Linked DNA regions of Homo sapiens. The protein of the gene in region 3 purifies or fractionates together with the protein of the main gene of each other region. This does not show direct contact. Each region holds a gene or a part of one and is shown on either strand. Other genes may lie near its edges.

Region 1 (3,655 bases), on a different chromosome or scaffold from region 3:
CATTCCCAATTTCTGTTGATCAGTGTTGCATAATACATTTTTTCCCCAACCTTTCACATTTAATCTATATGTGTTTTCATAGCTATAGTTAGTTTCTTATAGGCAGCATATAGTTAGGTCTTGCTTTTTTTTACTCAGTCTAACAATCTCTGCCTTTTAGTTGAAACGTTTAGACAATTTACATTGTGATTATTGATATGGTTGGGTTTCCATTCAAATTCTATAGAAATCCTGCTATTTGTTCAATCTGTTCTTTTTCCCCTCTTTTCCTGCCTTATTTTGGATTAATTAGAATATTTATTATGATTCCATTTTATCCCATTTGTTGGCTATTAGCTATAACTCTTTTTCAGAAGTTAAGGATTTTATATTATATATTTTACTTACCACAGTCTACTTTAAAGTAATATTATGCACTATTCCACATATACTATAAAGAACCTGACAACAGTACACTTCCATTTCTTTTCTCCTAGACCTTGTACTGTTGTTATACAATTCAATATTGAAGCGAGAGATTCTCCAGAACTTGCCCAGAAGCCAAGACGTCTGGAAAGGATCTCAGCCTCTGTCAGCCTGCAGCTTGGGAAGAGTGATTCACAGAGCCTGACTGTCCACTGCTGCTAAACCATACACTGGCCTTGGCTCACACATCTGACTGAACTGTCTCCTATGACTAACTGCCTCTCTTTCTTCAGCCTTGCAAGTTTCCTGGGAGTCCTGGGAGTGGACTTCACATATAAAAGGGGACTCTGGGAGACCTAGTTCCTGGCTTCTCTTCTGGAAGTCAGGGAAGAGTATAGGAAGGAGTGGCCACAGTGCCCAACTGACAATTGACAATTTCACCAAGTAAGTCCTTTTTGGGTTACTAGTCTTGTTTTCTTTTCTTTTTTTTTTTTTTTGGTAATTTCTAATTACCAAAAAGCAGTAAGACAGCCTCTGGAGAAATCTGTACAGCCAAAACACATATTAATGATCAAATATTAATATTTGTTTCCCTTTCAATCAAGAAAAGAAGACTAGCAATCCCCTTATTAGGTTAAATATTTATGGCATTCTTAAGGTTACCGTATTACTACATTCCAGATAATAACCAGGATATGCTTCTACCAGCTTAAAAAAAAGGCACAAGGTTAAGAAACAGCTCCATTATCTATAAATAAGCCAAACTGCTTTTTAAGATTTCATTAGTTAATGATACACACAAACTTGCATACAAAACCTGGCTTGCACAGTGTGTCAGGCTAAATTATAAACTGCTTTAGGATTTGGTTTCGATATTACTGCCTTGCAAAACTGACACACAGGGACAAGATATGGGTGAAAGGCCCAGTGCAGTAGCTCATGTCTGTAAACCCAGCACTCTGGGAGGCTGAGGTGGGCGGATCACTTGAGGTCAGGAGTTTCCAGACTTGCCCGACCAACATAGTGAAACCCTGCCTCTACTAAAAATACAAAAAATTAGCCAGGTATGGTGGTGGCGGGTGCCTGTAACCCCAGCTACTTGGTAGCCTGAGGCAGGAGAATCGCTTGAACCGGGGAGGCAGGGGTTGCGGTGAGCCAAGATTGCACCACTGCACTTCAGCCTGGGCGACAGAGCAACACTCCATCTCAAAAAAAAAAAAAAAAAAAAAAAGATATGAGTGAAGACACTGGTATCTTAATAGTCAAGCTGCTCTTAGGGGAAGAACTTTATTTTTGAGAAAAATTACTTGTTAGGCCTTTTAACGTGAGCCTCTTCATTTTACATGAGGGATCTTGAAGGTGCGTTCTGAAGGGAAACTGCAAATCAGAGATGGCTAGACCACTCTGTAGTAGCAGCTAAAACTTTGGGGCTAGGAACCAGTAGGAGGCAGAGGAAAGGGGAAAGTGCACGCAGGTTAGCAAAAGGCTAAAATCTGCAGAGAAGGAAGCCAGTGAGAAACGCCCAGTGGAGGAGGGAGCAATGGACTTCCAGAAACCAGGACATCCACAGTTCCATTTTCAGTTGTCTGCTGTGCTCTGCTATCCTGAACCTTTGGGAAAATGCCACTACAAATAGCCCTATAGAGGTGGTATTTAAGGAACAAAGAACAGGAGCAGTTTTGAGACAGCAGAAAAGGACACATAAGCACAGCAAAGTGACTAAAAAACTCACTTAGGTCCAAATCACAGTCACAGAGTGAGCTTGCGCCCCCACCCTTGGACTCAGAGAAGCTGGTGTTTGGCACTCCAGATGCAAAAATGGAGTTCATAGTTAGGAATGTGCTCTGCCAACTTAGAAAAAAAATTTTTTTTGAGATAAAGAGGGTAGAAGAAAATGTAAAATCACTGTAGAAAAACTTCAAGGTGAGGCATGAGGGCAGGTGCTGAAAAGGTGGAAGGAGAGTCCAGGCAGTTGGACAGAACAAACTAGTCGTTTTCATCCACTATTTGCAAGAATTAAAAAAAAGTTTGATAACACATTGGTTGGCCTGGGGAAACAGGTATGTTCATATGTTGCAGGAGGGAGAGAAGAACCTGCTTTATGGAGAGCAACTTGGAAATATTTATTACAAATTAAAATGCAAATGCCCTTTGTTCTGGTAAATCCAACTGTAAGATAATGTGTCCTATAGAGCTACACAAGTCAAGTGACTTAGGCTTACTGCAGCCTTGCTTATAACAAGCAAAAGATGGAAATAATCTATATGTCATTAATAACAGGCTGGCTATGAAAGTTATGATAGACTCGTGATATAGAGTATTACATGGCAATATAAAAATAAAAGAACGAGGAAGCCCTTTATATATTGAAAGGGACTGGTCTCCAAGATAGATGATCGGGTGAAAGAAGCAAACGACAGCCTAGTGTGCACTGTGTGCTACAGTCTGTGTAGTAACAGGAGGGGTGGTAGCCAAAGGAAAAAGATACTGTCTATGTTTAGAATCTCTTTGAAAGGACAGCCCAGAAACCTGTAACACTGAAACTGGCGACATGCTCTTGCTGGGAGCAAGAAAAACAGAGTGGCTGGGAAACAGGGATAGGAGGGAAGAAGGCTTCTCATAGAAAATATTTTTTTTTCTTTTTTTCCTCTTTAAAGTTTAGAATCACACAAATGTATTCACTATCTAAAATATAAACCACCACTGAAAACAGACATAAATATCAGAGGGCTGCTCTAGGAAGGTGAGAATTCTGCAGTGTATAGCGCCTTGGCTCACTCCCGCTTCCCTTCCTGGAGCTCCCTCTACAGTGCTCAGAGTCCTCTGCTGCCCCTGCCCCTGCCCTGTCCAATGACCCCAAGTGCCCCAGACTCCTCTCACCCCTCCTGGCCCTGCTGCAATTGGTTTTCACTCCCATACCTCCCTGCTTCACCGTGGGTCATCCAAGACCTTCTCATCACATTCAAGGGCTTCTTCTCAGCCACATCCTCCTGGACTTCAGACATGAGTGACCCTTACCTGGACCTTCTTCAAACTCACTCCTTCCTTTCTTCTCTTACCTCATGCTACCGAGGTTTTCTTTTCACATTTCACTTTCTTTCTTCATTTTACCCAAGATGTGCATATTTCCCAAAGCTCAGTCTTCATCCCTCTATTTTTCTCTCTCTCCCATGTCCCCAGAATATGGGGGTCCCTCATTCTCAGGGTTTCCATGACCACCTCTATGCCAAAGACCCTAGCATCCTGAGCT
Region 2 (3,172 bases), on a different chromosome or scaffold from region 3:
GCACACAGGTGATGGGGCTAAGCCTGACTCACCCCAAAAGGAGACCCTGGAGGTTGAGAACCAGCAGGAAGGAGGCCTGAAGCCACTGGCACAGGAACATGGACCCAGGTCAGCACTTGGAGGTGCAAGGGAGGTCCCCGATGCGCCTCCTGCTGCCTGCCCTGAGGTCAGCCAGGCCCGGCTCCTGAGCCCAGCCAGGGAGGAAAGAGGCCTGAGTGGCAAGTCCACCCCGGAGCCCACGCTTCCCTCAGCTGTGGCCACAGAGGCCAGTCTGGACTCCTGCCCAGAGTCTTCAGTAGGGGCTGTGTCCAGTCTGGACAGAGGCTGCCCTGACGCGCCTGCCCCCACGTCTGCACCAACCTCCCAGCAGCCGGAGCCTGTACTGGGTCTGGGCAGTGTTGAGCAACCCCACGAAGTACCCAGTGTCCTTGGCACCCCCTTGCTGCAGCCCCCAGAAAACCTTGCCAAGGGTCAGCCCAGCACGCCCGTGGACAGGCCCCTGGGCCCTGACCCTTCTGCTCCTGGTACCCTTGCTGGGGCAGCCCTACCCCCACTGGAGCCCCCAGCCCCCTGCCTGTGCCAGGACCCCCAGGAAGACTCTGTGGAAGACGAGGAGCCCCCAGGCTCTCTGGGCCTCCCACCGCCCCAGGCAGGAGTCCAGCCTGCCGCTGCTGCTGTCTCAGGAACCACACAGCCTCTGGGGACTGGGCCGCGAGTCAGCCTCTCGCCTCACTCCCCACTCCTCAGCCCCAAGGTGGCCTCCATGGATGCCAAAGACCTGGCCTTGCAGATCTTGCCGCCTTGCCAAGTGCCTCCTCCCTCTGGGCCCCAGAGCCCAGCTGGCCCTCAAGGGCTCTCAGCCCCCGAGCAGCAAGAGGATGAGGACAGCCTGGAGGAAGGTAAGGCAGAGGGTGGGAGTGAAGTGCCCTGGGGCTTGGGTCAACTGGACTCCTCCTTAGAGCTGTCCTGAGCTGGAGGGCCTCTGAGGTGGCGAGGTGGGGGGCCCAGACCCCACAGCCACCATGGAGAGCTGGCACTGCTTCCTCTGGCCCTGATGTGGCAGCAGGGCCAGGGTCCTGAACCCCCTTCCCCGCCACCTAGAAGCAAAAGGCCATCCTCACACCTCTCCCCTTCCCCAGACTCGCCTCGGGCCCTGGGCTCGGGCCAGCATTCGGATAGCCACGGGGAGTCATCAGCCGAGCTGGACGAGCAGGACATCTTGGCTCCTCAGACCGTGCAGTGTCCAGCCCAGGTGCCCAGTCCAGGGAAGAGGGTGGGCCTCTGGGAGGGCCCCACACCCCACCCATGGATGCTCAGCCCTCACCTTTTCTCAGGCCCCAGCAGGCGGCAGTGAGGAGACCATCGCCAAAGCCAAGCAGAGTCGCAGTGAGAAGAAGGCCCGAAAGGTGGGCTGGTGGCTCCCTCTGGGACCTCAGGCCTGGGACCATCTGTGTGGGGAACGTCCTTACCAAGACCCTCACACTCCATGGCTAATGAAATCCCATCCATCAGGGGACCTTTGGGTCCATGCCAGTAACCCACACACCTTCCCCTAAACAGCTGAGGCTGGAATGTCATGAGAAGGCCCTTATAGACTGAGGCTCATGGGGAAGGACCAACCACCAGCCCAAGGTCTTGGGGAAGTTGGCGGTGGAGACTTTGCCTTCCTGGGCACTGTGCTGCTCTCCTCCCCCGACGTGGGTCAACACCAGGTCTGAGCCCCCCTCTGCCCTCTACTCCCAGGCAATGTCAAAGCTGGGCTTGCGGCAGATTCAGGGAGTCACCAGGATCACCATCCAGAAGTCCAAGAACATCCTCTTTGTCATCGCCAAGCCTGATGTCTTCAAGAGCCCAGCCTCAGACACTTATGTGGTCTTTGGCGAGGCCAAGGTCTGGGTGGCGGCTGTGGTGGAATGGGGGATCCGAGGGATAGGGGACAAGGGGGGGACAGGCTCTACTGACACAGCTGTCTTCCATTTTGCAGATTGAGGACCTGTCCCAGCAAGTGCACAAAGCCGCAGCTGAGAAGTTTAAGGTGCCCTCAGAGCCCTCAGCCTTGGTCCCTGAGTCAGCACCCAGGCCCCGGGTGAGGCTGGAGTGCAAGGAAGAGGAAGAGGAGGAGGAGGAAGAGGTGAAGTGCAGGGGCTCCAGGGCCTCGCAGGGGGTGGTGGGAGGCGCTACATGGGGGCTCTGCCCCAGGGACCTCAAGCAGCTCCAGCCACTTCCCTGCTCCCCCAACTCCAGGTGGACGAGGCGGGGCTGGAACTGCGTGACATTGAGCTGGTGATGGCGCAGGCCAATGTGTCCAGGGCCAAGGCCGTGCGGGCTCTGAGAGACAACCACAGTGACATCGTCAACGCCATCATGGTGAGTGAGCACTGGCCCCTTTCCCTACCCCTGAGCTGTCCCCAAGGGCCTCGAGAGGTCCTGATGTTGGCTCCACTGCGGGGTGCTTCCCCCAACATGACCATCTCTTTCTGCAGGAACTGACCATGTAGCCACTGACCGGAAGCTGGAGCCATCCTACGCCTTCCCTCAGCTCTGCTACTCAATAAATCGGTGTCCCTTCATTGCCCTCTGGTGTCTCCTCCTCGCCCTCTGGAGTCCCATCATCACCATCTGGCATCCCTTCACTTCCCTCTGGTGTCCCTTCACCACCATCTGGTGTCCCCTTACTGCCCTGTGGTGTCCACTCATTACTCTGTGGTGTCCCCTCACTGCCCTCTGGTGCCCCCTCATCACCCTCTGGTGTCCCTTCATCACCCTCTTGTGTCCCCTCACTTCCCTCTGGTGTCCCCTCATCACCCTCTTGTGTCCCTTCATCACCCTGTGTCCCCTCACTTCCCTCTGGTGTCCCCTCACCACCCTCTGATGTCCCCTCATTACTCTCTGGTGTCACCTCAATACTCACCAGTGTCCCCTCACTGCCCTTTGGTGTCCCCTCATTACTCTCTGGTGTCCCCTCACCGCCCTCTGGTGTCCCCTCAATACTCCCCGGTGTACCTTCACCACCCTCTGGTGTCCCCTGCTCTCTGGTGTCCCAATACTCTCTGATGTCCCAATACTCTCTGGTGTCCCCTCATTACTCTCTGGTGTCCCCTCACTGCCCTCTGGTGTCCCCGCAATACTCTCTGGTGTCCCCTCACCACCCTCTGGTGTCTCAATACTCTCT
Region 3 (2,594 bases):
GCAAACAAATTTTATCTCAAGGCAGGAATTGAATGATTGCCATGTTCAGCATACCTATCTTTTTTCTTATGTAACAGTAATTATAAAGTTATGTCTTTTGACTTAGGTTTAAATAATTAGGCAGGGCCAGGTGTGGTAGCTTATGTGCCTGAGGGCTCATGCCTGGGATCCCAGCACTTTGGGAGGCCAAGGCAGGCAGATCACTTGAGCCCAGGAGTTCGAGACCAGCCTGGACAACATGGCAAAACCCTATCTCTACCGAAAATACGAAAATTAGCCAGGTGTGCTAGCATCCACCTGTGGTCCCAGCTACTTAGGAAGTTGACGTGGGAGGATCACCTGAGCCCAGGGAGGTGGAGGTTGTAGTGAGCCATGATCTCGCCACTGCACTCCAGCCTGGATGACAAAGTGAGACCCTGTCTCAAAAAAATAAAATAGGCAAAGCGCATTCAAAGAGGCAGGGACCCTAAAAGCAAAGTGTGGTTCTTTAAGACACGTGAGACTGCTTAATTTTTTATTTAATAGGTACAAAGTAATATTTATATATATGAGGTGTAAAGGATAACATTAGGCCAGGCGCAGTGGCTCATGCCTATAATCCCAGAACTTTGGGAGGCCATGGCAGGTGGATCGCTTGAGCTCAGGAGTTTGTGACCAGCCTGGGCAACATAGCGAAACCCCATCTCTACAAAAGATACAAAAAGTAGCCAGGTGTGTAGTGAGCACCTGTAGTCCCAGCTACTTGGGGGGCTGAGACGGGAGAATTGCTTGATCCCGAGAGGTTGAGGTTGCAGTGAGCCAAGATTGTGCCACTGCACTCCAGCCTGGGTGACAGTGAGACCTTGTCTCAAAAAAAAAAAAAGAAAAGAAAAAAAATTAAATAAATACCTGTATACCTACCATTCAACTATAGTTTTTTTCTTGAAAGACTTAGAAAATTAAAACTGTCATATTTCTGTAGCATACATGTTGATTTTCTTTCCCTGCCCCTTTCTGCATCTGAAAACAAATGATTGAAAGGTTTGTTGTTCTTTCTGGATTTTTAAAACCAAAATCCCAACACTTACAGACCAGGATGGTAGAGAAGGCTCTTTTGTTTGTTTGTTTTTGAGACAGGGTCTTTGTCATCCAGGCTGGAGTGCAGTGGTACAATTAGAGCTCACCGCAGCCTCGCACTCCCTCAGGTGATCCTCCCACCTCATCCTCCTGCATAGCTGGGACTACAGGCACAAGCCGACACACCCAGCTAATTTTTTTTATTTTTGCTGCAGAGGAGGGCTGGCTCCCTGTGTTCCCCAGGCTGGTCTCGAACTCCTGGGCTCAAGCAGTCCTGCCATGGCCTCCCAAAGTGCTGGGATTATAGGCATGAGCCACTGCACCTGGCCTGAAGAGGCTCTTTATCTTGAAGACGAGTCTTTTATGTGGAAAGAAATGTTTTTGTAAAAGGGGAATTTGTTTTGAAAGGTCACTTTGTTATGATTACATTCACTTCTGAACATTTGCTGGTTCCCCACTTTTTCTCCCTTCGATGTTTTGCAGAACCATAAGCCCCAAACTCTTTATTCTTTTCTTTCAGTATCTCTAGCTCTCTTGATTAGGATGAGAACTGCTTGAACAGCTGGTTGAGAAATTAAGTGTGAAACACCTTGGAGTCTTTAGCATTTTAGAAAAGTCAAGAAGCATAAAGGGAATGTCCAGACAGGAACAGTCTGGAATCCTCAATACGTGGAAATGATTCTAGACTTGGTAGAATCTGGGATGGCTGTTAACACATTTAGATGATTTAAGTCAAATACAAAAGGTGTTTCAGCTGCTGAAACACTCTGGGTGCAGTGCATGTTTGAATGTCTTTGGAGGACAGAAAATACAGTCCATTCATAAGGGCTGTATGAGAAAGAACTGGGTCTATCTGCCAATACAGTGAAGCTAGCAGATTCTAGAATGTCCATTTTCTGTGTGTGTGTGTGTGTATTTTCTTTTTTTTTTTTTTAAAGACGGAGTCTTGCTCTGTTGCCCAGGCTGGAGTGCAATGGTGTGATCTCGGCTCACTGCAAGCTCTGCCTCCCAGGTTCACGCCATTCTCCTGCCTCAGCCTCCCGAGTAGCTGGGACTACAGGCGCCCACCACCATGCCTAGCTAATTTTTTGTATTTTTAGTAGAGATGCAGTTTCACTGTGTTAGCCAGGATGGTCTCGATCTCCTGACATCGTGATCCGCCCACCTCAGCCTCCCAAAGTGCTGGGATTAGAGGTGTGAGCCACCGTGCCCAGCCGTGTTCAGATTTTTTAATAGAAACTGTTTTGGGGCATTGTGGCTGATGCGTGTAATCCCATCACTTTGGGAGGTGGAGATGAGTGGATCGCTTGAGCCCAGCAGTTGGAGACCAGCCTGGGCAACATAGCAAAAACCCCATCTCTACAAAAAAATACAAAAATTAGCTGGGTGTGGTAGCATGCGCCTGTAGTCCCATCTACTTGGGAGGCTGAGGTGGAAGGATCACTTGAACCCAAGAGGTCAAGGCTGCAGTGAGCCATGGTCATGCCACTGCACTCTAGCCTGGGTGACAAAGTGAGACCCTATTTTTAAAAAAAAAA

Evidence for each region.
Region 1: the proteins of WDR53 (region 3) and BLVRA purify together in Homo sapiens (affinity purification with mass spectrometry; 2 studies listed by BioGRID and IntAct, with this or other methods). This does not show direct contact.
Region 2: the proteins of WDR53 (region 3) and NACAD purify together in Homo sapiens (affinity purification with mass spectrometry; one large-scale study listed by BioGRID and IntAct). This does not show direct contact.

The regions. Positions count from the first base shown.
Region 1 is NC_000007.14:43,782,580-43,786,234, reverse strand, and holds part of BLVRA (biliverdin reductase A), read right to left. Parts: intron 1-3,655. UniProt on the Homo sapiens protein: Reduces the gamma-methene bridge of the open tetrapyrrole, biliverdin IXalpha, to bilirubin with the concomitant oxidation of a NADH or NADPH cofactor. Does not reduce bilirubin IXbeta.
Region 2 is NC_000007.14:45,079,835-45,083,006, reverse strand, and holds the end of NACAD (NAC-alpha domain-containing protein 1), read left to right. Parts: coding exon 1-899; intron 900-1,139; coding exon 1,140-1,252; intron 1,253-1,334; coding exon 1,335-1,406; intron 1,407-1,743; coding exon 1,744-1,890; intron 1,891-1,984; coding exon 1,985-2,131; intron 2,132-2,244; coding exon 2,245-2,367; intron 2,368-2,483; coding exon 2,484-2,498; 3' UTR 2,499-2,570; downstream 2,571-3,172. UniProt on the Homo sapiens protein: May prevent inappropriate targeting of non-secretory polypeptides to the endoplasmic reticulum (ER).
Region 3 is NC_000003.12:196,556,053-196,558,646, reverse strand, and holds part of WDR53 (WD repeat-containing protein 53), read left to right. Parts: intron 1-2,594.